Linked DNA regions of Homo sapiens: all the other regions are linked to region 3. The links come from fine-mapping of genetic effects on gene expression. A gene starts in region 3. Each other region holds a variant in brackets. All regions are shown on one strand. Distances are between the middles of the regions. Region 1 overlaps GALNT3 (polypeptide N-acetylgalactosaminyltransferase 3). Region 2 overlaps LOC100506124 (a long non-coding RNA gene). Region 3 holds the start of GALNT3 (polypeptide N-acetylgalactosaminyltransferase 3).

What was found. PIP is the estimated chance that this variant, and not a neighbour inherited with it, causes the effect.
Region 1: its variant is the best candidate, but not a certain one, in a credible set for the expression of GALNT3 in monocytes after R848 (Quach 2016, PIP 0.67).
Region 2: its variant is the best candidate, but not a certain one, in a credible set for the expression of GALNT3 in nucleus accumbens (GTEx, PIP 0.67).

Annotation. Positions count from the first base shown.
Region 1 is chr2:165,759,999-165,771,020 of GRCh38, forward strand. GALNT3 (polypeptide N-acetylgalactosaminyltransferase 3) reads right to left here. Exons shown (of 11, transcript NM_004482.4): 2 at 10,188-10,810; 3 at 4,886-5,058; 4 at 1,907-2,056. The coding sequence starts at 10,702. Among named protein-coding and RNA genes, the nearest start is that of GALNT3, 29 kb to the right of the region's middle. The variant C/T (reference allele first, on the strand shown) is at 4,905.
Region 2 is chr2:165,846,630-165,857,651 of GRCh38, forward strand. LOC100506124 (a long non-coding RNA gene) reads right to left here. Exons shown (of 4, transcript NR_045375.2): 4 at 10,846-10,985. Among named protein-coding and RNA genes, the nearest start is that of GALNT3, 58 kb to the left of the region's middle. RefSeq lists an enhancer at 7,266-7,767. The variant A/G (reference allele first, on the strand shown) is at 5,929.
Region 3 is chr2:165,788,374-165,799,395 of GRCh38, forward strand. It overlaps GALNT3 (polypeptide N-acetylgalactosaminyltransferase 3), which reads right to left and starts at 5,874. Exons shown (of 11, transcript NM_004482.4): 1 at 5,642-5,874. LOC124906086 reads left to right here and starts at 5,213. Exons shown (of 6, transcript XM_047446887.1): 1 at 5,213-5,419; 2 at 5,546-5,964; 3 at 6,427-6,706. The coding sequence starts at 5,213. RefSeq lists enhancers at 4,624-5,530, 5,531-6,436 and silencers at 5,507-5,596, 5,667-5,816.

The sequences.
Region 1 (11,022 bases), 28 kb before region 3:
AAAAAGGTGAAAAAAGATTCACTACAGTTAGAAAAATTCCCCTACAGATGATGACCTTCTTTCTTCTACAAAAGATGCAAAATAACACCAGTGTATTTAAAGTTTAGATGATGTGTTAAAATGGCCTATGAGTCAAAGGTAGCTTTTTGCTGTTCCACATTACCTGGCCCTAAAAGTGTTCTGATTTATTTAAACTCGTATCTCCCTGAATAAGGTACAGTAATTGAAATTTTCATTTATCTGACTGGGTCTTAGGAGAAAATAAGGAGTCAGTATAAATTCCGATTTTAGCAACTGGAGAAGAAGGACCATTCAAAGCTGCCCCAGACCTAATATAAAGGGAGGGCCAAGGAGTTTCATGTCATGATAGGTCTAAGCCCTGGTCACAGGCCAGGCTGTTTTATGTAACACACAGCAAGTTCAGCCAATGCATGTGCTGTCCTATTCTGGGCTCCCCACAAAGCAGTATTTGGCAGTCATGGTCCGGGAGGACCGTCAGACATATCCACCCAGTGGGTAGTGGGTAAGAATGTCCAGTATGATCTTATTGTAATTTTGAACAACGAGAAGAAATACCAGAGGATGGTATTTTCCTTTTTAAAGCACCTCTCTAGCATTACCTTTAGTGTTCTCTTCATTTTCTAAATGTCTGGTATTAAAAGAGAACTGAATGTGATGGCTCTAAGCAACACAAGCACATCCAAAAGCCCTTCTGTAATAATCGGTGTGTGCTCAAAACTAGTAATTGGGTGAAACATAACCTAAGCACTGGCCAATTCAAAGCTAGACACTCATACAAAGTATAGCCCACTAAACTCAGAGCTCAAGGGACAAAATGACAGTTTAGTAATAACTAGCATGCATATGACACATTGACTCTAAAAATGCTTTCTAAATACTTCAAAAACTTTGACTCTGAAAATAATTAAAGTACAAAGAAAAACCAACAGCAGCAAAGTCAAACAAAAATTGACAATGTTTATGTAAGGGATACCAAAGAAGATGGGATGGGGCACCCCTAACCTGGCATAAAAAGTATATATATAAACATATTTTGGTTTTGTGGTTTTTATTGAAAATTCGCAGACTCCTTTTTATGCCAAGGAGTCTGCAAATTTAAAAAAAAAAACACACACACAAACTAAAATATAAAAAAAGCAGCAGTACTAGGACGAAGTTTAATGATAGGGTGGATTATATTCACTCACTCATTCATTCATTCATTCATTTTGAAACGGAGTGTCACTCTGCTGCCCAGGCTAGAGTGCAGTGGCACAATCTCAGCTCACTGCAACCTCTGCCTCCCAGGTTCAAGCGATTCCCATTCCTCAGTCTCCCTAGTAGCTGGAATTATAGGCACATGTCACCATGCCTGGCTAATTTTTGTATTTTTAGTAGAGACAGGGTTTCACCTTGTTGGCCAGGCTGATCTTGAACTCCTGACCTCAAATGATTCACCAACGCCGGCCTCCCAAAGTGCTGGGATTACAGGAATGAGCCACCACGCCCGGCTACATTTAAATAGTAAATAAGCTTTCATTCACTTTAAAGTGTGGGAATCAAGAAAACAAACAAACAAACAAACAAACACTTTTTTTTTTAACAGAAAAGAAACATGGAAAAAAAAAAAAGAGGCAAGGATAACTGGCTGGAACAGCTAGTAACTGGAGAACACTGAAGTTGAGGAAACTTAAACACAAAAGGAGATAAGAATTCTGCATAAGTGAAAGGAATTTTCTCCACAGAGCTGTTACCTGCTTGGGCTGTCATTGCTATAATCGCCAGTTGAAAACGCTGTTAAAGAAAATGCAATTAGGCATTTAGAAAAGAAAAGACTTCCTTACCTTTTAAATTAGAGGGAGAGGGAGGGAAAATGTTACAACCATATCCATACATATATACTTACAGTGAGCATCTAAAAATGTGAGCGTTTCAGCTGTTGCGACTGTTGCTCCTAGCAACCGAGCAGTGATCAGACCTTTTCTTTCTCTTTGTCTGACTATTTTTACTATAGAAAATTGTTTTACATATTCATCTAGTTTATCATGTAAGTACTCTGTAAGGAAAAAAAATCAGGGTTAATTCTTTCTAAATGCATTTTCATATATAGCTTATGAAAGCTAATGAAACCACAGAGCAATGATCCTTCCAAATTCATAATCTTAACAGTTGCATGTGTCCTTCCAGCAAAATGAAAATTTTATCTTTAACTCCTTACTGGGGAAAAAGGCTAGCTATGCAAATTATCACTACTGTAACACAAAACACTGTAATGCATACTTATTCTGTACACTTCCTATCAATAAATATAATGTGTTTGGAGGGAAGTGAGAAACTTCAAATGGAGTCAACCCTAGCCGTTCAAAAGACTCATTTAGAGGTCTGAGAAGACTGACTACAAGAGTGAAAGATATGGAATTTGGCCAAAAAGATATTCAATGCTTTGAAATTGGTATTTAAATCTGGAAATCTTAAAGAAAAATGTCAAATATCTAAAGACCTCTGATATTTAAGCAAGGATCAAAATAATTTAACACCAAAATGTTGAGCCACGTCAGAAAGTCCACAGCTATAGCAGTTTGGGACGATTCCTACACAGAGTCAGCAGAAAAATTTGCGAAAGCTTTGGAGTCTCCTGACAGTTTTATTTAGTAAAATATGAAACAGGCAAATTTTAGTATTGGGTATATACTTTAAGATATTCAATATACCAAATTGGATAAGGTTTGTAATAAGCAAAATTTGAGATCATAGGTTTTAAAAAAGTTATTAACAAATGTCAATCCAGTGTTGTTTTTTTGTCTGGTTTTGTTTTGAGACAAGGTCTTGCTCTGTCGCCCAGGGTGGAGTGCAGTGGCACAACTCACTGCAACCTCCGCCTCTGGGCTGCAAGCAGTTTTCCTCAGCTTCCCAAGTAGCTGGGACCACAGGCATGCTCCAACAGGCCCAGCTAATTTTTCTTTTCTTTTCTTTTTTTTTTTTTTTAGAGACGGGGTTTCATCATGTTGCCCAGGCTGGTCTGGAACTCCTGAACTCAAGCTATTTGCAGGCCTCAGCCTCCCAAAATGCTGGGATTACAGGTTGAGCCACTGCGCCCAGCTGTTCATATTCTGAAACAACTTCTTAAGCCTGTTTTTCTCAATTAAATTTTTGATTTCTTATTGAGTACAAAATGCAGTTCTTCAAGCAGCCTTCTTGGGCCCAAAACATAGCCTCAAAAAAATTTGGGAATGTTAAGAAAATCAATAAATGTCCTGGGGCAAAAGTTTGCTTCTGCCAGATTTTAGAAGGAAATGCAGATGACTTTGACTTTATCTGTGATAATATAACCTTTTTTTCAATTCTCCAGTGGTTCAGTTAAGAGAGCTGCTTATTTAAAGCTTAAACATTCATAAGAGAGGAAAGTGCAGGAACAACCCTTGTAGAAAAATAAATCTATCTAAACACTGTTGTCTCAGAGTAATAGATTAACTTTTTAACACCTTCTAACTACCTCAAAATAATTCTCAGATTAAGCTTTTAACACCTTCTAACTACCTCAGAAATAATTCTCAGAAAGACAAGCAGAATTGTAACTCATCTTAAATATATAATCATAAACATTTTCTGTTTTAAGAGGCTTGTAAAAATTTCAACATTCTTGGTTAGAATTATTTTAAATGGAGTTACTACAGATTGCTTCAATATACCCTCTCACTGTTGGAATTTGTTAAAAAAAAATTTACTTACCCACAACATATGAACTTCCCGTAAATTTATATCTGCACCCTAAATTTAGCTCCCATGCACACCCTTTATTTGGGAGGTTAAGAACAGAAAGCTACATGAAATCAGATGCCCTGATTTCACTTTATGGCACAATTACTTTTAGCTGTGTGACCTTGGGCAAGGAATTTTACCTTTTCTGCGCCTCAGTTTCTTTAAGATGAGGATAATCGGACTCACCATCACAAGACATTGCTGGGAGGATAAAATGAGATATCTGACCTTCAGGAATCTAACTCCAAACTTGGATTTATTAAGGAATAAATTTTGTAATCATTGAAATAATATGTATCTGTTTGACACAATATTTAAAATACTTATGATGTTTGAAAATTTACAAGTTAGAGTATTTGTTAAATTAGCCTTGTGATTCCAATTTAAAATGTGTAATTTAGTATTTGACTTCCAATTTTAAGTGGAAATGTACTAAAGAATTTGACTAACATTGTAAGTAATATTGGAATATTTAAGAACACCGAAATAAAATAGAACATGGTGACTCTTTTTAACTATTCATTTATATTATTTATTGATATTTATATTAACTCATTCAGTCTTTAAAACAACTCTAGAAATTATGTACTAGTTCTGTATTTCCTCAATTTTAAGCTACACAATTGGATTCTTCTTATAATCAATTTCTTATAATCAATGGCATGTTAAGTTTAATTAGCTGTGGGTTTTCTCTAGTGATTTATAAATTAACAACACATAATATATTTAATGAAATATGGCATTATTCCCATTTTGCTGATAAATCACAGCAGAGAGGTTGAGTAACTTGCCCAAGTCATATAGTTGGTTAGGAAAAGAGCTGGGATTCAAATCAAGGCAGCCTGACTCAAAGGCTCAAGTCTGTGCTCTTAACCTCTATGCCTTACTGTAACAGTCTCACATTGAGGACTACATAGTTATGAATAATGGTGTTTCATACATTTCTGCATTTGAAAATATTTGAATATGTCCATCCTTGGATTCTAATTTCATTCACCATACCCACTATCCAAACTATTATATTCAAGCTCTGAGATGGCATACAGAGAGTACCACATAACCAAGTAGACTGTAGATACCACAATATGGATTTGGGAAACAATCTAATTTGCATGTGCTTTCTTACCATCTACACTAGCATCATC[C/T]ACCAAAATGATTTCCTTCAGCAGTATTGCAGGTGAAGAATAGAGCACACTGTGGACAGTTCTAAGCAACGTGGACCACGCTTCATTATGAAAAACTATTATGACACTGGTGGTGGGCAGGGGAGGGCAGCGCTTAAATTTTTGTTCAATACATCTAGAAGAAGTCAGAGAAGTAGAAAAACAATTACAAATTTTATTATTTTATTTCACAGCTATACCATTGCTAACATTATCATTATTGAATCTTTATCACTGAAAAAGGATAGTTTTCTTGTATGTGATATAATCTCAATGCTATATAAAATGTAAATAAATCAAAACAATTTTTTTACAAGCAAATCACTCACCCAGAGATGATGTCTACCAACAGAGATGACAACATATCAAGGATTACAACATGTTATTATAGCTTTCTCAACAATGTAATTTTAAATGCAAATAACATTTTAAATAATGAAAATAACCTACAATGAGGCAGCATGTAAAAATGACAAACCCTTATAATTGCTCAAATAAAAACCAAATTTTTCTTATTTCATGCAGAAATCATTCATTTTTCATATTTGCAACTTTAAAAATTGTACCACTTTATTAATTTTTTTTTTTTTATGGAGTCTCTCTCTGTCGCCCAGGCTGGAGTGCAGTGGCACGATCTCGGCTCACTGCAAGCTTCACCTCCCAGGTTCACGCATTTCTCCTGCCTCAGCTCCCGAGTAGCTGGGACTACAGGCGCCCACCACCACACCCGGCTAATTTTTGGTATTTTTAGTAGAGACGGGGTTTTACCATGTTAGCCAGGATGGTCTCGATCACCTGACCTTGTGATCCACCCGCCTAGGCCTCCCAAAGTGCTGGGATTACACACGTGTGCCACTGCGCCCACAATATTAAATCATTTTTATAAAGATTATCTTTAATTAGATATTTACCTAAGTATGTAATATAGGTTTCTTAAGTATTTCCTAGGTTTATTGAATCAATTTACTTAATCTATACACAGAATCAAAAGGGAAAAAATAGCTTTATTGTAAAACCTATGTTCTTCTTATTTTTATTTAAAATAGAGACAGTCTGTGATGTTGCCCAGGCTGGTCTTGAACTCCTGACCTCAAGCAATCTTCCTGCCTAAGCCTCCCATAGTGGTGGGATTATAGGGGTGAGCCATCATGTCCAGCCTAAACCTATCTTTTTATGATGTTCATCATTCAGCAAATACTTATTAAGTACTGCCATTTGCCATGTGTTAAAGATTTTGCTCCAATAATTTGATCTACTATCAAATAAGACTAGCGTTTAAAAAAACCCTTTAAAAATACGTAGAAATAAAGATCTAAATAAAGACCTAAATCCATGTTAAAAGTCCTGTGCTCATGTCACCATCTAAAACATTGATTGGGCACAGGGAGAGAGACCCTAAGTGCCCTTGACTGATTAGTGGTACTACTATCCATTAGTTAAAAACATTACTTATAAATTGATCTCAAATTCATTTGTATAGGAATGTCTTTCCTCAATGAAAAATATCTTCATATTAAGCCACTGGGGTGCAGGAGAGTCTGCATAGTCTCCAGCCTTTGAGGCTAGAGATGTAGAGATAACCACAGTGCCAAGCCTGCTGAATGGAGGTGAGGATTAAATGAAAGAACATATAGGAGAGGGCTTCAAGTCACTGGGACATAAAATAAAACTGTGTGAGGTTTATGGGAAAGATAAGCAAATAAAGCAACTATATCTTTAAGGTCACTTAAAAACCATAAATTGGAGATAAAAGCCCATCACCCTTCAGTTCCTCTGCCAGGGCCAATGGGGAAACTGTAGCCTCCAGTGTGATATTAGGGGCCTGAGAAAACTGCCCTAAAAAAAGATACACAAATTATCCCATTAATTACTTTCATAGTCATACCTCAATAGGAATGTCTCTGATACCCTTTTTTAACAGCAAGTCTTTAGAATGGATTATTTGTAGTGATTAAAAAAAGGAGTTGGATTGGGGTAAAATATCAAGAGAAGATGTCAACAACAGATTAGAAAAAGGAGAGGATGGATTCTGAGTGAAAGTGGCATTGCTCTTCAGTTTCTTCATGATTTCAAAGCATGATACAGGTGCATGGGCGGAAAAAATAAGCACCTTCTTCATCATTCATAAATAAAAACAAATTATTTATTCTAAATTGAATTTTGGATAAACTACCAATTAATAAAAAAGCTCAAACACAAACTATTAATATACACACTTGAACCACAACTACACAGAAATAAATGACTAAATATAAGCTTATATTTTGAACCCATAAAAGTTTATAACCAACATAAACTAGAAGTAAAAATTATGAAAAATTCCATATTGTGGTATTTTATTTTTAAAGAAAAAAAAAAGAGGAAACCTATGATTTGTTATAAGCATTTTGAGGAGAAAGTGAAATTCTGAGTATAAGATTTTTTTCCTACCTTTATTTGCTATGTGGTTAATTAATATAGTATTAATCGATAATTATAAAATGGTTTTGAAGATTTAAAGTATAAAATTTCACAAAAATTCATACTAGTAAAATGTTATCACTTTAATCTTGCAAGATTTTCCGTCAGTTTAAACTAGGATTTATTTGCTTAACTGATAATTACCAATATCAAGTACAAATGTCATATCAATACAAGTAATAAAATTTCACAATATAATTTCATAAACCCCATTCATTTTGAAACAACATGTTAAATGTATGCTTTGAAAATTGTTTTACATATTTAAAATAGTGCAATTAAAATAACTTGCCAAAGTGACTGTATCATTCCAGTCAAACCATTTGAAAAACCTGGCACATAGAAACATGCTTAAATTATCAGTCACATGACCATCTGGCTTTGGGAGAAACTAGGTCTATATTTCTAATGAGCATGGAAAACATTAGCAGTTCTTCAGAAAATGTGTTATTTGCTGATACTGGTTACATTCAAAGTAAAAAACAAATCTTTTTTTTTTTTTTTTTTTTTTTGAGACAGAGTCTTGCTCTGTCACCAGGCTGGAGTGCAATGGTGCAATCTCGGCTCACTGCAACCTCCGCTTCCCGGGTTCAAGTGATTCTCCTGCCTCAGCCTCCCAAGTAGCTGGGACTACAGGCGCACATCACCATGCCCACCTAATTTATGTATTTTTAGTAGAAATGAGGTTTCACCATGTTGGCCAGGCCAGGCACAGTAGCTCATGCCTTTAATCCCAGCACTTTGGGAGGCCAAGGCGGGCAGATCACGAAGTCAAAAAACAAATCTTTACCACCTGTACAAAACCCTGTCCAAAGTAAGAAATAATTAAATCTTCACTCCAACCAAAAAATGTTGTTAATGTGCTTACTTGTTTTTCACTTACTTAGCGATTAACATTATTGAAAATTATTGCAGCTTCTTAATGCTATATTGGGAGAAAAAAGCTCATTTTGAGCTGTCACTGATTGTCATGTCAAAAGAATAAAAATCATGATTATTGATTTTTAATGTAGATTACTTTTCAATCAAAACCTCTCTTCAAGTCAGTAAAGTGCAATACTGCATTCTAATCTATTACTGTATGAAAGGAACTATAATGTGCCTTGTTATATCAGCTAGAATATTTTATAGATATTAGTTTCTTTACACATTCATTTAAAAATTATGAGCAACCTAAACTTGAATCAATCAGATTAGAATAGCTCAACAGAAATCTAAGCTACACAGTTTCAATGTTAAGGGACTCATATACTTGGATCCAGTATTGATAATCCTAAATCTAGAAAAACCTGAGTGAAACAATAGACCAAAAGTTATCTTCAAGTTCACTGCCAAATGTAATTCTCTAATATCCAGAAAGCAAAGCAAAATACACAGGCATTGTTTGCTTCCAGTTTGCTTATCTTGTACTCTTTTTTTTTTTTTTTTTTGGAGATGGAGTTTCGTTCTTGTCGCCCAGGCTGGAGTGCAACGGCACAGATCTCCGCTCACTTCAACCTCTGCCCCCAGGTTCAAGCAATTCTCCAGCGTCAGGCTCCCCAGTAGCTGGGACTACAGGCACACGGCACCCTGTCCGGCTAATTTTTGTATTTTTAATAGAGACGGGGTTTCACCATGTTGGCCAGGCTGCTCTCAAACTCCTGACCTCAGCTGATCTGCCCTCCTCGGCCTCCCAAAGTGCTGGGATTACAGGTGTGAGCCACCAAACCTGGCCTATCTTGTACACTTAAAAACTTACTGAGGGGCTGGGTGCAGTGGCTCACGCCTGTAATCCCAGCACTTTGGGAGGCTGAGGTGGGCGGATCACTTGAGGTCAGGAGTTCGAGACCAGCCTGGCCAACATGGTGAAACCCTGTCTCTATTAAAAATACAAAAATTAGCCGGACGTGGTGCCACATGCCTGTAGTCCCAGCTGCTCGGGAGCCTGACACTGGAGAATCGCTTGAACCCAGGAGGCAGAGGTTGCAGTGAGCCGAGATCACACTACTGCACTCCAGCCTCAGTGAAAGAGAAAGACTCCATCTCAAAATAATAATAATAATAATAATAATAATAATAATAAATAAATAAATAAATAATCTGTTGAGGGTGGGCCAGGTGCAATGGCTCATGCCTGTACTCCCAGCACTTTGGGAGGCCAAGGCAGATGGATCACCTGAGGTCAGGAGTTCAAGACCAGCCTGGGCAACATGGTGAAACCCCGTTTCTACTAAAAATACACAAAATTAGCCAGCTGTGGTGGCGGGCGCCTGTAATCCCAGCTACTTGGGATTGTTTACAAAAAATAGGGCATTCTGAAATATAATTAGGTACTCAAAAACTTTGAGTCAAAGTAATCACAAAGTCTGTGAATTGCTTTACACATATATAAAATATTATCCAACAGTTCCAAAATCTTGGCATGTTTTTAAACATTTTTATTCTAAAGAAATACAGAGAAATGGAAACAATTCCTCTACCTTCTACTTCCTATACAAATTGTCCAATAATTCCCCCTAAATAGATGAGAAAACCACAGTATTTAGGAATAAAGAATTTCCTTGTGGATAGCAGTCAGATCTAGAATTCAGTTTTCTAATTTCCAAGCTAATAACTTTTCATATCTGCACTGCCTCACCAAGCATAAATAGGGATATGTAGCCTCAATCATTATAAGCAAAAAATAAATACAACAGGTTAAATAAACAGTATTTGCTGATTTTCTGCCTTAGAGTAGCTAAAAAACAGATAACTTCCTTAGCTCACCCCTCTCTCCCCTGCAAAGCCTGGTGATAAAGAATAAACAATAAATATTCTTCAACATACTCAGGAGGTCGAGTGTCTGGTCCAAGATCTCGGTGCAAAGAAATCCTGTCACTTGCGAAAGCATTAAAGCAGTGTTTAGCTTCCCCACGTTCCTTTTCCTTTTGCTCTTCAACACTTAAATTGGTTGTCTTGAATGCTTTACCAGAAGCACCAGGTGCATTTGAATCCTGAGGTGGACGGTCAAGGACAGGCTTCAATTCTGCTGCTGTATAATATCCTTGCAAACAAGGTCTCTCACCAGCATCAATGTTTTGCCTGACAGGTGCTCCTATTTGCATTTTTGGCATGGCATCCTTAATATTGTTTACAGCTTCTAGCATTAAATCCAACATCTTGTTTTTGTTTTTCATGTTCCTTTCCATCCTTGATTCCTCTTTGGAATATTGAACACTTACTTCTCTTTGCATTAAAACCAAAACTATTATAAAGAAAAAAATTACTGCACCAAGCTTCCAGAACTTTTTATGGTAATGTCTTTTAATGTGTAATTTTACTAGTCGCTTTAGGTGAGCCATTCTGACATTAAAAGCTTGTCACTTGACAAATAACAGTTATTTCTTCTTCTGTTACTTATATTTTTTATCATAGATTTGCTGAGAAGAAGGTATCTTTAATGGTAGTACCTATAAACAGAAATGATCGATGGTATTAGTAGCTATTCAGTCCTACAGGCATGGCTCAATTCATTCATTTAACCAACAACTGAACATAAGCTACCAATGTACTCTTATGGTTAATGAGAATACAAAGATATCTTGTCCTCAAGAAAATTACACTTTTGGAAGAAAATAATTGTTACAATTTACTACAATTTATTGGGGTTGCAAAAATATTG
Region 2 (11,022 bases), 58 kb after region 3:
TGTGAGGTTTGCATTAGTAAAAATTGTGTATTTAAAAAAAAGAAAACAAAAAAAGAAGAAAGCTAGAGAACTAGTATCAAGCCAAGAAACAAAAGGTAGTCAACAATGTTCTTTTCTCAATGCAGAGAGGGCTTATTGAAATATAAGCAAGAACCTTTTTTTCCTTCAGCTAGTATATATGAGTTAAAATTTTCCAGTTCTTCTGAAAAAGGTCATTTCTATAAATGATGCATTTTAAATACCATTTAATAGCTGTTATTGAAATTTGGCTCATGAAAAAACTACAGTTATATTTTTTTGTGTGTAATCTGGCAAAAATGTCACTATACATGTCAGCTAATTGTGTAATATCTTGCTGCTGTTTTGTTTCCTGTGCACTTCCATCAACAATTTCAGCTTATAACAGTGATTCTTTTCCTTTTGCATCTCAATATACCTGATATAAACTTTTTCTCCCATCAATAATAGTGATTCATGACAGTAATCATGAAATCTTTCATAGGAGACAATGTTGTTAGAATCTGTCTCTAGGGGAAAGTTGAGAAGGGATTGCATAGTTCAGCATTTTCCTCAGGAGATTCGGATGTGACCCCTAGAGGTTATAAACCGTACCACCTTTTGAGAATCACTGATCTTCCTAGGGGTTATAAACTACCTTCCCTTTTGAGAATTACTGATTTCTGAATGAAGACAAAGAATTTATAGTTTTTCTTTAAGCCAAATTAACATACTTCTAGAACACAGTGTATAGATGCTAGACACATCATGGGCATTCACTTACATTTGATAGAGCTTGCACTTTGATTTTTTTTTTTTCTGGTAGCAATAAAAGATTTATGCCCATTCACCAGCTTAGTTGTGATCACCATGTAAGAAGGTTGTCTGGGGTTAAGGTACTAGATAGGCCATTGGATAGAACAAAATTTCACTTTGGCTTATTTGCTTAGCAATTCCAACCAAAGCTAATGAGCTGTAGATCAAAGCAATTTGTTGACAATATTAATGGCAGTCTCAGGTCTAAGTAAATTATCTGACCTTTCACTCCGTTACTTGGCTGTCAGGAAGCTGAAAGGAAGAGTTCAAGCCTAGTCTTGGTTGTGACTACATTTGCTAGCACCTGAAATAATGAGTTTTGGTAGCCACACGATTTTTTTTTGTAATTAATATATACTATTTGTACACTTTTATGCAGTACATGTGGTATTTTGTTACATGCATAGAATGTGTGATGATCAAGTCAGAGTATTTAGGGTGTCCAGCACCTTGAGTATTTGTCATTTTTATGTGTTGAGAACATTTCTAGCCCTCTCTTCTAGTTATTTTGATATATATACAATACACTGCTGCTAACTATAGACATCCTACTCTGCTATCAAACATTAGAACTTATTCCTTCTACTTAACTGTATGTTTGTACCAATTTATGCCCATCCATTCCTCTACCCACCCACACACACACATTCTTGCCAATTGGTAACTATTACTTTTAACATTACTTTTAAATGGCAAAAACTGCAATTACTTTTGTACCAACCTAATATTTCACTCTGTACTTCTATGAGATCCACTTTTTTAGCTCCGACATACAAGTGAGAACATGCAATATTTGTTTTCTGTGCTTGGCTTATTTCACTTAATATGGTGACCTCCAGTTCCATCCATGTTGCTGCAAATGACCAGATTTCATTCTTTCTTAATGAAAGGTGAATAGTATTACATTGTGTGTATATACAAATTTTCTTTATCCAATCATCCAATAGTGGACACTCAGGTTGATTCTATATCTTTGCTTTTGTGAATAGTGCTGCAATAAACATGTGAGTGCAGGTATCCCTTTGATATGATTTCCTTTCTTATGGATAAATACACAGCAATGGGATTGCTGGATAGTATGATTTTTGAGAAATCTCCATGTTATTTTTCATAGTGGCTATACTAATTTACATTCCCATCAACAGTGTATAAGAGCTCCTTTTTCTCTGCATCCTCACCAACATCTGTTTTTTTTTAATTCTTATTAATAGTCCATCTAACTGGGGTAAGATGATATCTCATTGTGGTTTTGATTTGCATTTCGCTGATGATTAGAAATACTGAGCATTTTAAAAATATAACTGTTGGCCATTTGTATGTCTTCTTTAGAGAAATGTCTATTTATGTACTTTGCCCATATTTTAGTAGGATTATTAAGTTTTTTTTGGCTGTTGAACTGTTTGAGTTCCTTGCATATTCTGGATATTAGTTTCTATCAGATGAATAATTTGCAAATATTTTATCCTATTCAACAGGTTGTCTCTTCACTCTATTGATGATCTCCTTTGCTGTGCAGAAGATTTTTAGTTTAACATAGTCCCATCTCCATTCTTGTATTTGTTGCCTGCACTTTTGAGATCTTAGCCATAAAATCTATGCCTAGGCCAATATCCTGTGGTGTTTCCTCTATGTTTTCTCCTAGCAGTTTTATAGTTTTGGGTCTTATGTTTAGGACTTTAATCCATTTTGAATTGATATTTTTATATGATGAGAGATAGCTGTCTAGTTTTATTCTTCTGCATATGAAGATCCAGTTTTACCAGCACCACGTATTGGAGTGGATATCCTTTCCCCAATGTGTGTTCTTGGAGCCTTTGTTGAAAATCAGTTGGCTATAAAAATGTGGGTTTATTTCTGGGTTCTCTATTTTTTGTTTTTTTGTTTGTTTTTGTTTTTGAGACAAAGTTTTGCTCTGTCGCACAATCACGTTTCACTGCAGCCTCAACCTCCTGGGCCCAAGCAATCCTCCTGCCCCAACCTCCCAAGTAGCTGAGATTACAGAAGCAGACTACATGCCTGGCTATTTTTTTTTTTTTTTTTTAGACCTGGGGTCTTGCCATGTTGCCCAGACTGTTTTTGAGCTCCTGGCCTCAAGCAATCCTCCCACCTTGGCCTCCCAAAATGCTGGGATTACAGGTGTGAGCTACCATGCCTAACCTTGGGTTCTCTATTTGTTCCATTGGCCTGTGTCTGTTTTTGTACCAATACCATGCTGTTTTGATTACTATAGCCTTGTAATATATTTTGAAGTCAGGTAGTGTGATACGTCCAGCTTTGCTTTTTTTTCTCAGTATTGCTTTGGCCATTAGAGCTGTTTTTTTGATCTGTAACAATTTTAGAGTTGTTTTTTTCTATTCTAGTGAAAAATAACATTGATATCTTAATAGGGATTGCATTGAATCTGTAAATTGATTTGGGTTGCATGGTCATTTTAACAATATTAATTCTTCCAATCCATGAGCATGAGGTGACTTTCCATTTGTTTTGTGTCCTCTCTAATTTCTTTCACCAGTATTTTGTAGTTTTTCTTATAGAGATCTTTCACATCTTTGATTAAATTTATTCCTGGATTTAGTTTATTGTAAATGGGATTTATTGTAACTGGGATTGCCTGCTTGATTTCTTTTTCGGCTGTATCATTACTGATATGTAAAGATGCTACTGATTTTTTTTATGTTGACTTTGTATCTTGCAACTTTACTAAATTTACTTATCATATCTAACAGTTTTATGTTATCAGCAAAGAGGATCAATTTGATTTCCTCCTTTCCAATTTGGAAGCCTTTTCTTTCTTTTCTTTGCCTGATTGCTCTGGCTAAGACTTCCAGTACTATGCTGAATATGAGTGATGAAAGTGGGCATCCTTGTTTTGTTCCAGTTCTTTGAGGAAATGCTTGCAGTCTTTCCCCATTTATTATGATGTTAATTGAGGGTTTGTTATTTATAGACTTTATTATGTTCAGATATGCTTCCGGTATGCCTAGTTTGTTGAGAGTTTTTATTATGAAGGATCGTTGGACTTTATCAAATGTTTTTTCTGCATTTATTGAGGTTATCACATGGTTTTTGTCCTTCATTCTGGTGGTGTGCTGTGTCACATTTATTGATTTGCATACATTGAACCACCATTGCATCTCTGGGATAAATCCCACTTGTATTATATTTTTGAAGTGCTACTGGATTTGGTTTGCTAGTATTTTGTTGAAGATTTTTGCATTTATATTCACCATGTATAGTGATGTGTAGTTTTCTTTTTTTGTTGTGCCCTTGTCTGGTTTGTGTATCAGAGTAATGCTGGCCTTGTAAAATGAGTTGGGAAGAATTCCCTCCTCTTCAATTTCTTGGAATATTTTGATAACAATTAGTGTTAATTCTTCTGTGTAAGTTTGGTAGAATTTGGCAGTGAAGCCATCTGGTTCTGGACTTTTTTTTGTTAAGAGACTTTTTGTTACTGATTCAATCTTGTTATTTGTTATTAGTCTTCTCAGGTTTTCTATTTATTCCTGATTCATTGTTGGTAGGTTATATATGTCCAGGAATTCATCCATTTCCTCTATGTTTTTCAGTCTGTTGTATAGGTGTTCATAATAGTATCTGATGGTATTCTGTGTTCTTGTGGTATCAGCTGTAATGTTGCCTTTTTCATTTCTGATTGTGTTTATTTGCGAATTCTTTTCTTGGCTGGGTTGGTTAGCAGTTTATTCATTTTATTTATCTTTTAGAAAAATCAGCTTATCATTTTGTTGATCCTTTGTCTTACTTCTTTTGTCTTTATTTCATTTAGTTTTGCCCCTATCTTTATTATTTCTTTTCTTCTGCTGATTTCGAGTTTGGTTTGTTCTCGCTTTTCTAGTTCCCCTAAGTATATTATTGGTTTGTTAATTTGTTATTTTTTTACTTTATTGATATAGGCATTTATTGCTATAAACTTCCCTCTTAGCACTGCTTTTGCTATATCCCACAGGTTTTGGTATGTTGTGTTTCCATTTTTTGTTTCAAAAATTTCTTTTTTAATTTCCTTCTTAATTTTTTCATTCACCCAATGGTTGCTGAGAGCATATTAATTTTCATATATTTGTACAGTTTCCAAAGTTCCTCTTGTTACTGATTTCTAGTTTTATTCCACCATGGTCTAAGAAGATGCTGAGTATGATTTCAATTTTTAAGAATTTATTGGGACTTGTTTTGTAGCCTAACTTATGGTCTTTTTTGGAGAATGTCTCATGTGCTGATGAGAAGAACGTGTATCTACTGTTGTTGAATAAAATGTTCTGTTGATGTTGAATAGGTCCATTTGGTCTAAGTTGCAATTTAAATCCAATGTTTCTTTATTGATTCCTGTCTAGATCATTTGTCTAATGCTGATAATGGGGTGTTGAAGTCTAAAACTATTATTATATTGGAGTCTATCTCTGCCTTTAGGTCTAATAATATTTAATTTATATATACCAATGTTGGGTGATATATATTTAGAATTTTTAAATCTTCTTGCTGAATTGATCCCTTTATTGTGTTTTAATGACCTTTTTCTATCTATTTTTACTGTTTTTTGACTTAAATTCTGTTTTATATGATATTGATATAAGTATAGCTACTTCTGCTTGTTTTTTTGTTTTCCATTTGTATGGAATGTCTTTTTCCATCCCTTTACTTTTAGTCTATATATGTCTTTACAGGTAAAATGAGTTTCTTATAGGTAGCATATAGTTGAGTCATGTTTTAAAAAAATCTATTATATTTAGCTAGTCTATACATTTTAAGTGGAAAATTTAATTTGTTCACATTCAAGGTTATTATTGGTAAGTGTGGACTTATCCTTGTCATTTTGTTAATTATCTTCTGGTTGTTTTCTATCTTTTTCCTTTCTTTTTTCCTTTCTTTCTTTCTCTTTTGTTGTTTATCATTGTGGTTTGGTGTTTCTCTGTAGTGATAACATTTGGGTTCTTTCTCTTCCTTATTTGTGGGTTTGCTTTACCAGTGAGTTTTATACTTTCATGTGTTTTCATGATGGTAGATATCATTCTTTTGTTTCCAGGTATAGAATGCCCTTGATCATTTCTTGTAGGTCTGGTCTAGCAGTGATGAATTCCCTCAGTTTCTGCTTGTTTGGGAAAG[A/G]TTTTATTTTTCTTTCATTTATGAAGGACAACTTTGCTGGGTATTGTATTCTGGGTTGACAGTTTTTTTTTTAATCACTTTGAATATATCATTCTATTGTCTCCTGACCTGTAATATTTTTGCTATATGTATTTTTAAAAATCCCCAGTTAGTCTGATAGAGGTTCCCTAATATGTGACTAAACACTTTTCTCTTGCTGTTTTTATAATGCTCTTTGGTTTTGACTTTTACCTTAATATGCCTTGGAGAATAACTTTTTTGACTTATATCTATTTAGGGATTATAAACGTCCCATATCTATATGTCTAAATCTCTTGCTAGACTTGGGAAGTTTTCAGCTATTATTTTGTTAAATAGGTTTTCTATGGATTTGGTCTCTTCACCTTCTGGAACACCCAAAATTCATGTATTTAGTTGTGTTGTGTTCTTATGTCACAGGATTTGTTCATTCTTTTTTATTCTCTTTTCTTCTTTTCAAAAAATCTGACTGGGCAATTTCAAAAGACTTGTCTTCAGGTTCTGAGATTTTTGCTTTTGTTTGATCTATTGTTGAAGCTCTTGTATGAATTTTTAAAATTTCATTCATTGAATTCTTTCTTTCCAGGACTTCTGGTTTGTTCTTTTTTATTATATCTATCTCTGGTGAATTTCTCACTCACATCCTGAATTGTTTTTCTGATTTCTTTCAATTATTTTCAGTGTTATCAATCATAGCTCACTATGAACTCAAGTTCCTACTCTCAAGCCTGCCTCAACCTGCTAAGTATTTAGGACTATAGCCTGCAGTGTGCTGCCATTCCTGGCTAACATTTTATTTTTATTTTTAGCACAGACAAGGTTTGCTATGTTGCCTGGATTGGTTTCTTGTGTTTTTACGTTGATAACTGTACCTCCGGTGTAACAGTCACTTCTTCCAATTTTTTTTTGAATTGACTTTTACAAGGGAAGGGATTTTTCCTGAAGATACATCTATGCTGTTGGTTGGGTAGGACACTAGCTTTGATTCTGGGTGCATGCAGTAGTGTAGTCTCCATATGATTTATTCAGCTGTAAACAGCATCAGCTGTGTCTGTGATTTCCTAAGTGGCTTAGGTTGTTGTTGTTAGTGGAGGCTATGGTGAGGTTTTGTTGAGGATGAGGATTACAGGTAGGCCAGTCATCAGATTCCAGTCGCGGCAGCAGTAGACCAAGCATGCCTGGCCTCGGGTTCCCAGTTGGCGTATGAAGTCACCAGTGTTAGTGGGTTGAAACAGGCCAATACTTAGGTCTACAGATGGCTGAAGTGCTGCAGTGGTAGTGGTGGGTCAGTCAGTCGAGTGGGTCCTTGGTCCCTGGATAGCATGTGTGATGTGGGTGATGGCAGTAGTAATGGCAAGACAATCCTTGGGCTCTGAAGTGACACACATTGGTGTTAGTGATATCTACAAGGAGCTGGGTATGTCAGTCCCTCATTCCCTAGGCAGTATGTGCAGTGGGTGCTGCTGTGGTGGTAGCAGCCCTAGGAGGACTGCACAGATGCCAGTGGTGGTGGACAGGGTGAGACAAGCCCTTAGACAGTGTTCTAGGGCACTGGAGTGGGGGGAGTGCCAGGCCAGGTAGGCCTGTTTCCAGGGACCCCAGGAATGTAATCAGGCCCTGGCTATGGTGGGCAGAGAGGAGTGACACTCAGGCTCCCAGTAGAGAGCTTGGGAGTCTGCTACAACAGGGGTGGTAGGCAGGGAAAGCCTGCCATTAGGGTATGTCCAAGTATGCTGCAGTCCTGCTGTTGGAGTAGAGGCAGAGTTTCTGACAGTAACTATAGCCACAGGCAGGCAGTTCTTAGGCTGTGTGGGAGGAGGGATGCTTTAATCCCCAGTGGCAGTGGCAGTGGTATATCAGCTGTAGTAGCAGCAGGGAAAACTAGTTCTCAGGAAATGTGCAAATGCGTGATGGGAGCCCTGCTGCTTGGTAGATGGAGTCGTGACCAGCTACATGTGTTTTGGCTTCTGGTGGCAGCAATAGTGGCTGTGGCTGGTGATGAGAGGGTCTGTCCTCAGAGTGTGATTGCAGTAGCCCTGCTGCTGGGGGCAGGGTCATTATATGTGGTAGCTGTCCCAGGTAGGTGGTTCTCTGGCCATAGAGAGTATGTGCTTTGGCTTTCTTTGTCCTGGGAGAGCCTCCCTAGGGTGCTGCACCACCGTTTACCTGGCATACAGGGCACTGTGTGTGCTGGAGTGCTGGGGACCCTGCCATTCTGCTGAGTCTGACTGGTGTTATTGCTGCTACGGCTCTCTGGGTGGACACAGAATGGTGTCAGTGGGGCTCCAGGGACGTGAAGGTGCAGGGGCTCTTGGGCCCCAAGGCGGGATGCAACCTCCAGTGGGTCCTAAGCTCTCAAAATGGCCCTATGGTGAATCTGCTTAGGACTTGGTGGGTGCGTTGGACCATTATGAACTCCCACTCTAGAGCAATGCCTTTGTGTCATCTCCAGGCAGGTCCCTATGCTATTCTGAGAGCCTGTGATGGGGTCTCCCATGGCTAGGGTATCAGGAGTCCATGGTGGGAATATGGAAAGGTGGGTATCTACTGCTTACCCTTTTCCTGAACTAGGGAGTCTTTATGAGCTCCCAGCTGATCCCAGCTGAGCTGACTGCCTCCCTTCCTGCTCCTTCCATGCCTCAGGTGCTTCCTGTTCCTTCTCTGTTGAATTCCAATATTCTCTCTTAGATGCTCTATTCGAAGTTTGATTATGCACTTGCTATTTTGGTTCTTGTCTGTGGAGGAGGTAAGTGTCAGATGCCTCCAGTCAGGCTTCTTGAAGTTCCTCTCACATAAGTCTTTATGTCCTTCATGACAATCTTACTATCCCAATGAGTGAATGACTATATGACAAAACAATCTTATTATATGTCGACATCACAGTATCACAGTGGATACTATGGTAGGCACCATGCCCCTATTCAAAATCAAGGCACTCATTTCCCCAGATGCCAGGAGTATTGGCTGCTAATGGCTCATAGCTAAACCCCTCTCCAAGCACTGGCCTTGGATTAAGACTATATTTCCTCCTGAAGAGAGAGTGGGGCAGCCTGTGTACAATGCAGGACCAGGACTAGGGTGAAAAACTGGCCTTGAGTGCTAAATTTAAGCAGGAGCCAAAAACTCAGTAATCAAACAATATTTTAATGTAATATTTTAAAAATAAAAAATGCAAAGGTTCTGTAATTATCAAAATATCACAATTTTAAATAAAGATATAATCAATATGACTGATTTTTCTCTTTGCTTGAGGCTCCAATATGGCTCCCCAAAACACTCTCTATTTTAAAGCATTATTTAAAAAATACTAACCAATGCAAAAGTTCACCCTGAACAAAATACTGAAATTTTTAAATAAAGGCTGACTTTTGCATTAATTTAGGTTTAAAAAATAATAATACATTAAAATATTATTTATCTTGGCTACTGAGCTTTTTGACGCCCTCTAAATTTTGTCCTCAAGGCAAGCATCTCACTCTTCTTATGTAGTCCCAATCCTGGCAGATTGACTCAGGGGAAACCAATGTCTGTCTCCTTTGCCTTAAAGGGAGGCCATGGGAGGCCATCCCATCAACACAGTCCCTTGGGGATCAGCTGAAGCCTTCCTTGTGACTTCATTGCAGTCCAATCCTGCTTTTCTCCCTCCCTTACCAGCATTATTCCTAAGAGTATCCTGCAGGTGAGTCTCTGAGTCTCTTTCCTCTAAGACCTCCCCAGAGAAGAGAGGTGAAAACTGAAGTTCACAGAAGGTGAGGAACTTGCCCAAGCTCTCAGAGCTCCTATGAGATGAAAACCCAGGTGAGACCAGGCACAGTGGCTCATGAGGGTAATCCGAGAACTGGGAGGCTGAGATGGGAGGACTGTTGGAGCCCAGGAGTTCAAGATCAGCCTGGGCAACATAGTGAGACTCTATCTCTTCAAGCAATAAAAAAATTAGCTGGGTGTGGTGGGTGCACGCCTGTAGTCCCAGCTACTTGTGGGGCTGAGGTATGGGGATCACTTGAGCCTGGGAGGTCGAGGCTGCAGTGAGCCATGATCACGCCACTGCACCCCACCCTGGGTGACAGAGCAAGACCCTGTCTAAAACAAACAAACAAACAAACAAAAAACAAATCCCAGTCAAGTTAGTATGACTTTAAAGCCAGTGCTTCTCATTATAACATTCTATAGGCTGGGGCCAGAATTTGTGGCTACAGTCTAATAAGTCAAAGGTAAAACAGAGATACCAGCAATCCCTATGCACTCTCCTAATTGAATTTCCTAATTGCAGACTAGAAATCAGGTTCTCTGATTTCTAGGAAGTGGGCCTCCGATTATATCAGACCCTGTAGTCAGCAGAATAATGCCCGCATCCCCACTGAAGATGTCCACATCCTAATCCCTAAAACCTGTGAATGTGTTAACTTACATGGCAAAAGGAACTTTGCAGATGTGATTAAGTTAGGGATCTTGAGCATATGCTGCATTATCCATGTAGGCCCAAATATAATCACAAGGGTCCTTATTAGGGAGAGAGGGAGGCAGGAAAGTTAGAGAAGGAAACATGATGACAGAAGTAGAGGTCACAGTGATGTGATCATGAGACAAAGAATGCAGGCAGGCCTTAGAAGCCAGAAAAGTCAAGGAACAGAGCCTTCCCTACAGCTTGCAGAAGGAAGGGAGCTCTGTTGCCCCTTGGTCTTAGCTCTAAGACCCATTTTGAACATCTGACCTCCAGAAGTGTAAGAAAATAAATTTGTGATGTTTGAAGCCTCAAGGTTTGTGGTAATTTTTTATAGCAGCAATAGGAAAGTAAAAGACCCCTAAAGCAGTGTTTCAGCCCTGGCATTATGGCATCACCCATGTGGCTCTGAGATGTATTGGATCCCTAACAGAAAACAGGTAGGACCACCAGAACAATTTAATGAAGACTTCTCAGTTGTATTATATTTTTAAAAATTTAAAATGAACTTGTATATGTGGAAGGATTGATGATCTGTACTGACTCCAGATGGTTATGTTCTCCTGATGACAGATGGAAGTCCAGGAGGCGGGGCCATCTACAGGAAAGCAGGAGAGAAATGATTGATATAGGAA
Region 3 (11,022 bases):
CCCTTTCTGTGACATTTCTACCCCAAAATTTTTATTCCACAAAAGGCTTAATGGAAAGAGAAATTTTGCATGTTTTGCAAATAATCCAAAAGGGTGTGTGTGTGTGTGTGTGTGTGTGTGTGTGTGTGTGTGTATACAGACAAGAGCAAAAGCAGACTATATTTATATCGTATCAAGCAAATAATAGAAGTATACACAGGACACCTCACCCTGCTCAGGTATATGTGGAGGTGTGGGTGAGGGGACACAGTTTCCCAAATGAAGCAAGACCTTCTTTGAGTTTTAAGAGCCATTAAGAGCTATAGATAGATGTAAAGATAGAAGGAAAGGCACTCTCTGCAGTGGGAAGTGCAAAAGAAAAGCACACAAGAAAAAAAAAACAATAAGAAGTCTATTGCTGGGAAATAAAATTTCGGCTTATGGAGTATCACTCCAGAGTTAAGCAAGTCTCAGATCCCATGGGACCATTTTAAGGGCTGTGGGTTCTATCCGGTAAGCAACAGAAAATTGTTGAAGGATTTTAAGTGAGAGAGAGAATTTGCATTTCTAAAAAGATCATCCTCATCCTCCAGATGGTGGACTTGAGGTTGACAACACTATCTGCTGAGATACCAGGTAGGAGGCAGCTATGATACCTTGGTTGAGAGATGTTAAGACCTTAAACTAGATCAGTAGAAGTGAAAGAATTTATGGCTGGGAGAAAGGTATAAAATGTTAAGTGGATTCAGTGTTCTAATGGTTGTTGTCTTAGTTCATGCTATAACAAAATACCTTAGACTGGGTAATTTAAACAACACAAATATACCACTCACAGCCAGAAAGCTGGGAAGTCCAATATCAAGCTGCTGGCAGATTCAATGTCTGGCGAGGGCACATCCCTCATAGATGGCCTCCTAGGTATCCTCACATGGAGGAAGGGCAAAAGGCTAACAAGCTTTCTCAGTCCTCTTTTATAAGGACATTATCTTTTACAAAAACACACGAGGCCAAGGCCCTCGTGACCTGATGACCTCCCAAAGACCCTACTCCTAATACCAATACATTGGATTTGATTTCAACATATGAATTTTGGAAAAACACAAACATTCAGACCATAGCAGTTGTAGAGGCTAAGAAAAAGAGTTTAAAATTACCTCTGGATTTCTGGTATGGCACCTGGATGGTAGTACACATTTATGATTCACTCTCCCAAATCTCTGCAGCAAAATATATTTCAAAATTCAGGATTTGACAGCCTGTAGTCTCAGCTACTTGGAAGGCTGACATGGAAGGATCACTTGAGTCCAGGAGTTCAAGATCAGCCTGGGCAACATAGTGAGACCTTGTCTCATAAAAAAAAAAAAAAATCTGATTTTTTTGGATGTTAGAAAGGTGATATGGTTTACATAATCAATGTAAAAGTGTACCCCAGCAGGGCCTGGGCAGTATTATGTAATCAAACAGCACTATTTCTGCAGCTGGACATAATCCACTAAGTTGAATACACAATCACAATAGCCTCCTGACAGTTCACTCAGGCTTTGCTCCAACTGAGTTCAAGTTTTGCTAACAAATGAGTTAAATTTTGTTTTGCTTTGTTTTCAGAGGATGATTTTTGAATTATAGATAAGAAATGGTACAATGTACTACTATCTATAAATAGAATACAGAGAGTGAGCAGGTTGTTTGTTCATTTGTTTTTTGATGAGATGAAGGTTCTGGTTTGAACATATATAATCTCCAGTGATGAACAAATGTTAAAGATGTCCAATAGGCAATCATATAGAAAAGAAAATTAGTTTGGACAGTTTGAAACTGAAACAATTATAGGGAAAAGGTGTACTTGGGGGAATATTCTCTCTTTAGTGCCAAAAATAAGAGCCCAACTCTGAGAATGACCCAAGGAAGTGTCATATAATTGTCAGTAGTCTCTAATGACCTAGAATTCAGAGTCCTACTTGTCTTTGCTTTGCAATAAGTGAATGTACTTTTGTCTCTTGCCACTGCTGGAATTGATTTGAATTCAGTTTTCCCCCTTAGTGTACATGAGTTGTGTTAAATTTCACCCAAATTACATAGTATGAATTATTTTGATACTAACTAAATGCATAATTGAACAGCTAACTGAAAACACCTTCCTTTTCAATAGGATTTTATATCTATAAAGTATCTATCATTCCAAATGTATTTTTGCACTTGATGGACTAAAGAACTGAATACATGTGAAGATGATTCAGGCACTGATCATTTCTAAAATCCTAAATATGATAATATTTTCCTTAGGAGAAATATTTCACCCACCAAGAATGTAAAGGCAGGTTAAAATTGAAAGTGTCTACGGAAGGCTTAATTATCCAATCAGAGCTTCCAAGACTACATTCCTACAAATCATTGAGGGATCTATTTTAATCTCTCAATGTAGTCTTTTTGTGGAGAGGGGGAGTGTAATTCCTACAATTTGTCTCATACTTGTTTCATAGTAAAAAAGAAAAGCATTAAATATTAACAGAATATAAACCAAATAATAAACTGGCTATGTTTTCTCTAATAAATTTTCAGACTCCACCCAGAACTCTAACTCAGTCATAAAACTTTAAGAGTTCAGAATAGAGCTGGACAGAAGGTTTCTCCCTCAAAATTTCACTGAATTCTTATCATCAAAATCCCCTCAGAAAAAAATATTTCTAGTTTTTCCTGTTCCCAAATACACTACAGCATGATGAGAACCCATTTAACACAAAATATGTATAATGAACAAGGTTTCATGTAGTTCTTAATATTTGAAAGATTTAATCTAGCACCAAGGTCCTGGAGCCTCAAGCCCTACAATACATGTTTAATTAGGATTACAGTAAAGTTTTTAAGAAATAATTTATTTTCTTTCATGTGAGTGGGTGTGTGCCTGTGTGTGTGTGTGTGTGTGTGTGTATACGCATGTATGAGACAGAGAAAAAGAAAGCTGGTAGAAAAATCAGCCTTTAAAAGAACAAAAATTCAACAGAATAGTGCTATTTTCACATTGAGGGCTCCAGCACTTTCGTGGTCATAAAGCAGTCTAATTGTTTAGACCAACGTTTTTAAAAATAAAATAATAAAGAACATACATGTTGTAAGGTTAAGCACTGTTTTATATTAATAAAACTTGTTTCATTTATATACACTCACATTGGAGTTTACAGAGTTGAGGCAGAGAATAAATTAGTTATTGAGGATTGCAGTAAAAGGAAAAAAAAGTTTAAAGAAACTTAGTGTTAAGGAAGTGTGCTTGAAATAAAAAATCTGGAGTGTTGCAAATGGATGAAAGGCACTGGGTAGCTGCCTCATAAAATATATTTTAAGCCAATATAATAAAAAGATCAGAAGACTAAATAATGTTATCCACATTGACTTAAAAAATTAACTGTGGCTTGGAAATACCAAGAAGGAACTAAAAGTCTCAACTGACATGGCATCATCAATATGCATGCTATTCCACAATGAGAGGAGCATGATGCCTTCACTGGGTAGTTTCCACGAAGTCAGGCAATATTTGGACAAGTAGAAATGAGGGTAAATCAGAGTGAAGAAAGAGCAATGGACAATTCTGTAATTACAAAGGCCTTACAAATTATATGAAAGAAAAAAGATAAACATCTTATGGTAAGTGAGGATGTGGGTGGTGAAAAGTAAGATACAGGAGTCATGAGTCAAGCCACTGGAATGATCATGCCATCTCTGAGTGAAATGAAGTTAGAATACCTCTCTTGGCTTCAATTTTTCATAAATGGATGGTTTGAGTATTGAATCTCCAAAGTGAGAAAGGGATCTCGAGAATGCTAGGGCTGGAAGATACTCCTGATTGTTTTTAAGGTTTTGTTATCTTAATCTAGGAAAGTATTATTTTTCCTATTTAACAGATAGATTAAGTTACACTGTTACTCTAGCTAATGAAAACATGTTACATTTCTCACTAGAGGTTAAGAGGAAAGACAGTCTGGTAACATCTGCCTAGTAAGTAATGAAGACTAATATTCAAAATTCAGGGAACAACTCCTATATCTCATATTTAAACAGTATTTAGCACATTTGTTTCTCTGTATGGAGACAAGATTAAGAGGTCAGGTGAGATCCTTTTAAGAAATGTAGAAAAGTGGTGATTGAATTAATAATTACATCATGTTATGCTGTGGTTGGCTTTTAGATTTCCATCTAATCTTAAAAAGAAGAAGAAAAATAACCCCACTACATGTTGCATCAGGCATTTTAAGTAAAACGTGCAATTTAAAAAATATTTTTAAAATGTGTGGAGATAGAACAAAACAATGGAATTGTTATTATTATCAGAAACTTCTACGTAAAAATGTTGGTTAAAGCAATATATAAAGATTGATTCTCGGTACAAATTGCTTGGAAAGTTTAACATGTGCACTAGATTTCAGATATTAAAAGTTAAATTAAAAAAAAGAATCTAATGGCAGCGTGTGACTTTAACCTCATGGATTTTAGCCACAAACGCAAAGAAAAATATATACAATAAAAGAAGCAACAGATTTTCCCACAAGCAGAGATTTTCTAATTAAAATGCTGTCACTTTAATATTTTTTAGCTATAGAATTTGACTGTAAATGTCTTCATTATGTAGTGTAACTTCTATAGCAAGTTATGTTAACGTTTTCAAGAATCGGAAATATTGGTAACTCGATGGGGTTCTTAAAACAGAAATAGTTTCTTTGATGAGTTGGAAAGAGAAGGAAATAAAAGTCTAAGGTAAGCGCCAGTTTCACCCTCAATTCTTAGGCTTCAGAAAAGCCTAATTAGGCAGGGAAAGGAATCTGGGCCTGGCACACCCAAGCTTAGACGTGGCAGGATCCTGAAACAATGTTTTTTTGAACCTTTGAGTCATATGCCACAGGCAAACCATAGCCGCGATATGCAGGTCCTTAAGTCAACAGGTCCTCTAACGAGATGGTGAGTGGTTGGTGCGTGGCAGTTGGATTTCTTCCCGCCACGGAAGAAAAGAACTCTTCTCCATTGATCAGGAAAGTGGGCCCAACTCTGGCCTGGAGAGCGCACCCGGAAAAGTGCAGAGTCGAAACAGAGAGAGAGGGGTGTCCGCGTCCCGGCCACAGAGCCCTTTCCAAACCACTCGGAAACCATTTAAATGGCTCGGCGGCCGCGGTTTGCAGCCTAGAACTGTTTGGGGTCCCCGGCTAGGAAAGTTGCCTGGCAAAGCCATGTCTTTCGCTGTCGCGGGATGTCCTCTCGGGCAGAGAGGCTGGAGGAGACAGGCAACCTGCTAGCCGGAGTGGAAGCGCGCCCGCCTCCCGCCGGGCCCTCCCTCTCAGGGTCCCCACGCTGCGACCCTCCCAAGGGCAAGTCCGGGGCCACCAGGTCTTTGGTCTCCGTCCAGCTCCTCAGGGGCCGCCCCATAGGGACTGGCGGGGGCACCGTGGGCGAGAGGGTGTGACCGGGCTCCCCCCCGAGGCGCCACCTGCCCCTTGGCCCAGGGCGCCCCTTTCGGGATCTCTCCAGGGGCAACCGACACACTGCTCTCGAGACCGTCTCCAACCGGCCACCTGGACCGTAGCCCTGTCCCCAACACGTGAACCCCTGCGGCCGTCCTCCCGCCTGCTCTAACGCAGCCCAGGGGTACCGCGTCTCCCTCCGCCTGCCGCCGGCTTACCTGGCGGGTGGGCAGGGCAGGGTGGCGGGAAGCGGCGGCCGGGCAGGCGCTGGACGTGGGCTAGGCGCCAGGTGCAGGTGGCGGCGGCTGCGACTCCGGTTGCTGTCGCCACAGTTGCGGCTCAGTAGAGCTCCTCCTCCGCCGCCGCCTCCTGCCTTCCCGCTGGGCCTCCCGCGTTGCCTGGAGAGGCAGAACCGAGGCTCGGCTTCCACTTGGAGTCTCCCAGGTGAGCTCCAGCCTGCGACGTCGGCAGGGGCGAGGCCCCACTTCCGCGCCTGCGCGCCAGCCTCCCGCCCCGCCCCAGCCCTACCTGAGCGCTCCAGGTGAGAACCTTGGATCGCGCGCGCAGGGTGGGGGCGCCGTCCGGGCCAAGCCTGGCTGTCGCGCGGCTTCTCTCTGAGTGGTCGGCGAGGCTGCTGCTCCGCGCAAGTTGTGGCTCCCGGCCCATCTACATTGGAGGAATCCTGCACTGACCTGGTGGCAGTGATCACCTTGTAGCCAGAACACAGTCTGCTGGGTCCTTGGGGAACCAGAAGTTCTAGATTTCCCCCACACGGTTCCTCCCTTCCTCCTCGGTTCGCCAAAATGAAGGGGTGCGCTGCCTCCGAGGACCACTTCGGGAGGGCAGCAACTGCTGGCTCATGTGGTTTCTTCGGGCAGGGTTCAGCAGCTTCTGTCACCAGTTAGGTTTCGTGAGCTTCCTTCCCGTGTAGTCTTGATTTCATCACTTGACTCACTTCAGCGCAGCTAGTGGTTTCCGTTTCTGTACGCGGGCGCTCTGGTAGGGGCGCCTCACGTCCAAAGGAGGAGTCTTCTTCCAAAGAAGAGCCTTTGGTATTTGGCAGAGCCTCGCCAATTTGGGGCGCACCTCCCCTTCCTGGGATGCTCTCAGAAGGCAAACCAATTCCCAGAAGAGAGGGAAAAACAGCCACAACAGAGAGAACCTTTGCTGTCCCTGTTTGGAAAGAGATTGGGATTTCCTGGAGAGGGCTTGCTTCTACTGCAGGTTTGTTTAAAAGCTCAACATCTATTCTGGAAGAGAACAACGCAGACTCCAGGAAGATGGTGGGTTTTGCTGTTTTTAAGACAAAAAAAAATTGTTAAACAGTATTTGTTCCATTTATGACACAACTTTCTGTTTCAGCCTTCCTTCTGCTGCTGCAACAAACATTGACACACCCAAAACCAGGACTTAAAATGGCCTTTATACCTTTCTATGAACTCATTTCTTTGGCCCTATCCCAAAGATATCTAGGGATATAAATAGAAAACTAGCTAAAAACTTTTTGGTGTCGTGTTTAATCACATGGTGGTAGGTTTTACTATGAAGTTTAGTTGTGGCCTTCCTCCTACATTTTGACATGCTCTTATGGTGCTTATTCACTGTTTTATTAGTGCTATGCGTGACCTAAAAATAAGGTTTAAAATACAGTTTAGTATAGTATCAACAAGTGTATCTTTAGTATTTGACTACTCTAAGACATTGGTTTTAGCATCCATAGTGCTATTTTATACTAGGACATCTATGAGTTAGGGTTTAAGACTTTAGTAAACTAGGTAGTTCTTTGCTTGTTTTACATGTCATGGTTATTTTGCGAGCACCAAGGAACCTCCATGTATTTGCAACATTTTAATATCAGTACCTACAAGCAATTGCCAAGCTCCCTTTCCCTCCAAAAACAAACAAACAAAAAAATAGTTCAGGAGATACTTGTGTGTATTGATATACTAACTTGGCAGTGTTTTTCCTTAGGTCCAGGTCCAGAACTGAAAATACTAACTACTGAAATTCTCTTCTCCTTCTCCTTCTTCTTCGTTGTGCCACTTTGTCGTTTACCCCTAACCAGAGGTTAATGTTAGTCTTTGGAAAATTTGTAAGGTATCCTAAATGTATAACCAAGAAACCTGTACCCTTTTGCACGCACCACCCATCTCTGAATGAAGAGCCAAAGATTGTCAGAGTTTTGATGTCCCACCAGGCGAAGAGCAACACTTTTCACTGACAATCAGGACAGAGCAGATGGATATAGAATAACAATCTGGAATCCAAGGACTGAGATGCATTGACAGCAAGACTAGTAACGTCAAATAACAACTGAAAAGAGAAGCTAGGGTAGACCTATTAAAAGAGAGAGCCAGCAAACAGGACCAAAATGCTGGATGAGGAGTCTAAAAAGAACAGAAGAAACAAAAAAGATCAGGAGTTACTAAAATTTGACTGTCAGTTTTACAATGGAGACAGACAATTTAAAGAAGGAAGCAGTTTTTCTGAGTGTGGCATTACTTGTGCACGTTGAGTGTCATATATATAGAGAGAGAGAAAGAGAGAGAGTGAGAGAGAGTGAGAGAGAGAGAGAGAGAGATATCTTGGGGATGAGACCTGTCTAAACACAAAATTCATTTATGTTTCATATACACCTTATACACATAGCCTTAAGGTAATTTTATAAAACATTGTAAATAATTTTATGCATGAAACAAAGTTTGTGTAAAGTACTTATGTGTGGAATTTTCAACTTGTGGTGTCATGTTGGTGCTCAAAAAGTTTTGAATTTTGGAACATTTCAGATTTTGGATCTGTGGATTAGGGATGCTCCACCTGTACTATTTTACACAACGTTGCTTGTACTATTTCAAAGCATTCTGAAAGCAAAGTCTTAATATTAATAAAAAATTTTCTATGTGACAATAAAATTAAAATGCTGCAGGCCCAAGAAAAAAATATTATCATATTGAAATATTTAATGCCCCAAATCTAATCAGATGCAGGTTTTTGAAAGTACCATCCTATTCAAAATTATGAAATAAAGAATTTGTTTCATAAAGAGAAATTAGCATTTCATCATAAATAAAATCCAGGAACCTTAGTGTAGACATGCTTCAGAAATAAGCTAATTTTAATAGTATATGTTTGACATATAATGACAGTTAAGATAGAAAACTGGGCAGATTTTACACAGGAAGGAAACAAACATTCTCTCTCTCTCTCTCTCACACACACACACGTACTTATTACACACACACACACACACACACACACACACACACGACTAGCCACAAAATGCTCATTTGCATGGATTTGAAACAATACTCACTCCTTAATACTTTCTGTTAACATTTAAATTAATGCCAAGACCAGCACCTGGCACTTAGTAGGTACTTAATAAATATGTGTTAAATGAATAAATTGACCCATCAAGTACCATAAAAAAAATGCCTAGTGTCTTGAGCAATTTACAGGTCTAAAGAATGGTTTTACCCAACAGTAATGACAAATAATCCAAGGCAGATAAGAACACTAGACTGGTAATCTGAATTGCAAAGTTCTAAGAACAATAGCTACCAGCTTTCACATACCTACATTTCAAAAGACACTACGCAAAACAACTTACACTCCTACAAATTACTTTACATCTGGCTTAAATATTCTCTTCCACAAAACAAAATAGTGGTACAAGATGATCTACAGGCTTCTTTACATTCTGATTCATATAAACTCTATGCCAAGAGAATTGGGCAAATAAATAAATAAATAAATGAAACCTTCTGGATATAGCAATAATAATTAATGGGACAGCAAAGATGAAGAAACTGAAATTATTTAGCTGAGATCGAAATTTTAATTCATAAAAAATAGTTGTAATATATAATGTAACAAGTAAATGTGTAAAGTTACTAAGCCTAACTTTAAACTATTTTAGTTTGTTAATTGTTTAATTGTTGGTTACACAACTTTGCTTTGAAACATACTCTAGAAACAGTTTTGCCTCATGAGGGAACTAGAGCTTTTAGTGAGGATCTCAAAGTCAGACTGAGAGATTTGGCTCAAAGACTGAACAGACTGGAATAATTTCTTCTCAAAGCAGTAAAAGTGTTGAAATGCTATTGATTCAAGCAGAGAATAGAGGTGGTATCACAGTGAAGAGCCACAAACACGTGGGTATTTTTTAAATAATGATCCAACATAATTCTACATTGTGTTTAAAATATAGCAAGTTAAAACAGGGAAAATATAAATAGGTTATTTTAGTATGAACTTTTTTGGACATTGTTTTATATGATTCTTCCCCCTGTAGAATCTCAGAACAATCATCTCAGATTTTCAAAGTGGTTCACATACTATGAGGGGTTGACTTAGATTACAACAAAACTATGTCTTGCTAATCTTGTATTCTTAGTACTTGGCACATAGTAGGCACTCAATAAATATTTGATGAAATGTATTGAATAGAGTGCATTGTTTCAAGCTTTTAAGCATTAGCATAAGAGCAAAAAGAAATGTCATGCTGAGTCAGAATAATATTCAATCTAACTGGCTCTAAATTCTGACAGTGGCACCAAAGAATATTTTGTGGAAAACTATGGTGATAGTCTTGCATGATGTTGACCTCAGTGATGTACTCGAGTATCCCTCACTCACTCTTTTCCTAAATTGATTTCTCTTTTTCTGTAACATGTTTCTTTAAATTGAAAAGAAATTAATATTCATTACAGAGAAATCAGAAAATACACATAACTGCAAAGAAACTAGCTTTGAAATACTCAGAATTCCTTATACCAAGATGAATCAGTGCTATCAGACCCTTTCTATCATGTATCTTTGCAGATTTTTTTTATTGAAAAAGTTGGCAGGAGGCACGGCATGGAATGGGGAACATAGAGGGATACAGAGACAGGTTTGTAAAATAAAAACTAGATCATTCTGGGGACTTGTTTTGTAGCCAGAGTTTTCTACTTGACATATAATTAAATGTCAATAAATTTATTTTACAGTATTATTTTAATGGCTGCCTGATATCCCTTTGTAAGGATTTAATCTGTCAATTACTGTTGGACAATGAAGATTGCTCCCAAATTTTGCTATTGCAACCAGTGCTATAATGATCATACTCTTCATCTGTTGAAACATTTATTACGATTTTCTTCTAATTGACTTTTATTTTGTTTTTGTTTTATATAGAGATGGGGGTTTCACTATGTTGCCTAGGCTGCAATTGAACTCCTGAACTCAAGCAATCCTCCTGTCTCGGCCTCCCAAAGTGCTGGGATTACACGCATGAGCCACCAGGCCAGGGATATTTTTGTCTTTTGAGACAGGGTCTTGTTCTGTTGTCCAGGCTGGATCACAGTGGTGCAATCATGGCTCACTGCAGCCTCAACCTCCCAGGCTCAAGTGATCCTTCCACCTCAGCCTCCTGAATATCTCGGACTACAGGCATGTTTCATCATGTCTGGCTTTTATTTTATTTTATTTTATTTTTTGGAGAGATGAGGTCTTACTATGTTGCCTAGGCTGTTCTCGAACTCCTAGACTCAAGCAATCCTCCTTCTTCAGCCTACTGTAGTGCTGGGCTTATAGGCAGGAACCACCATGCCCAGCC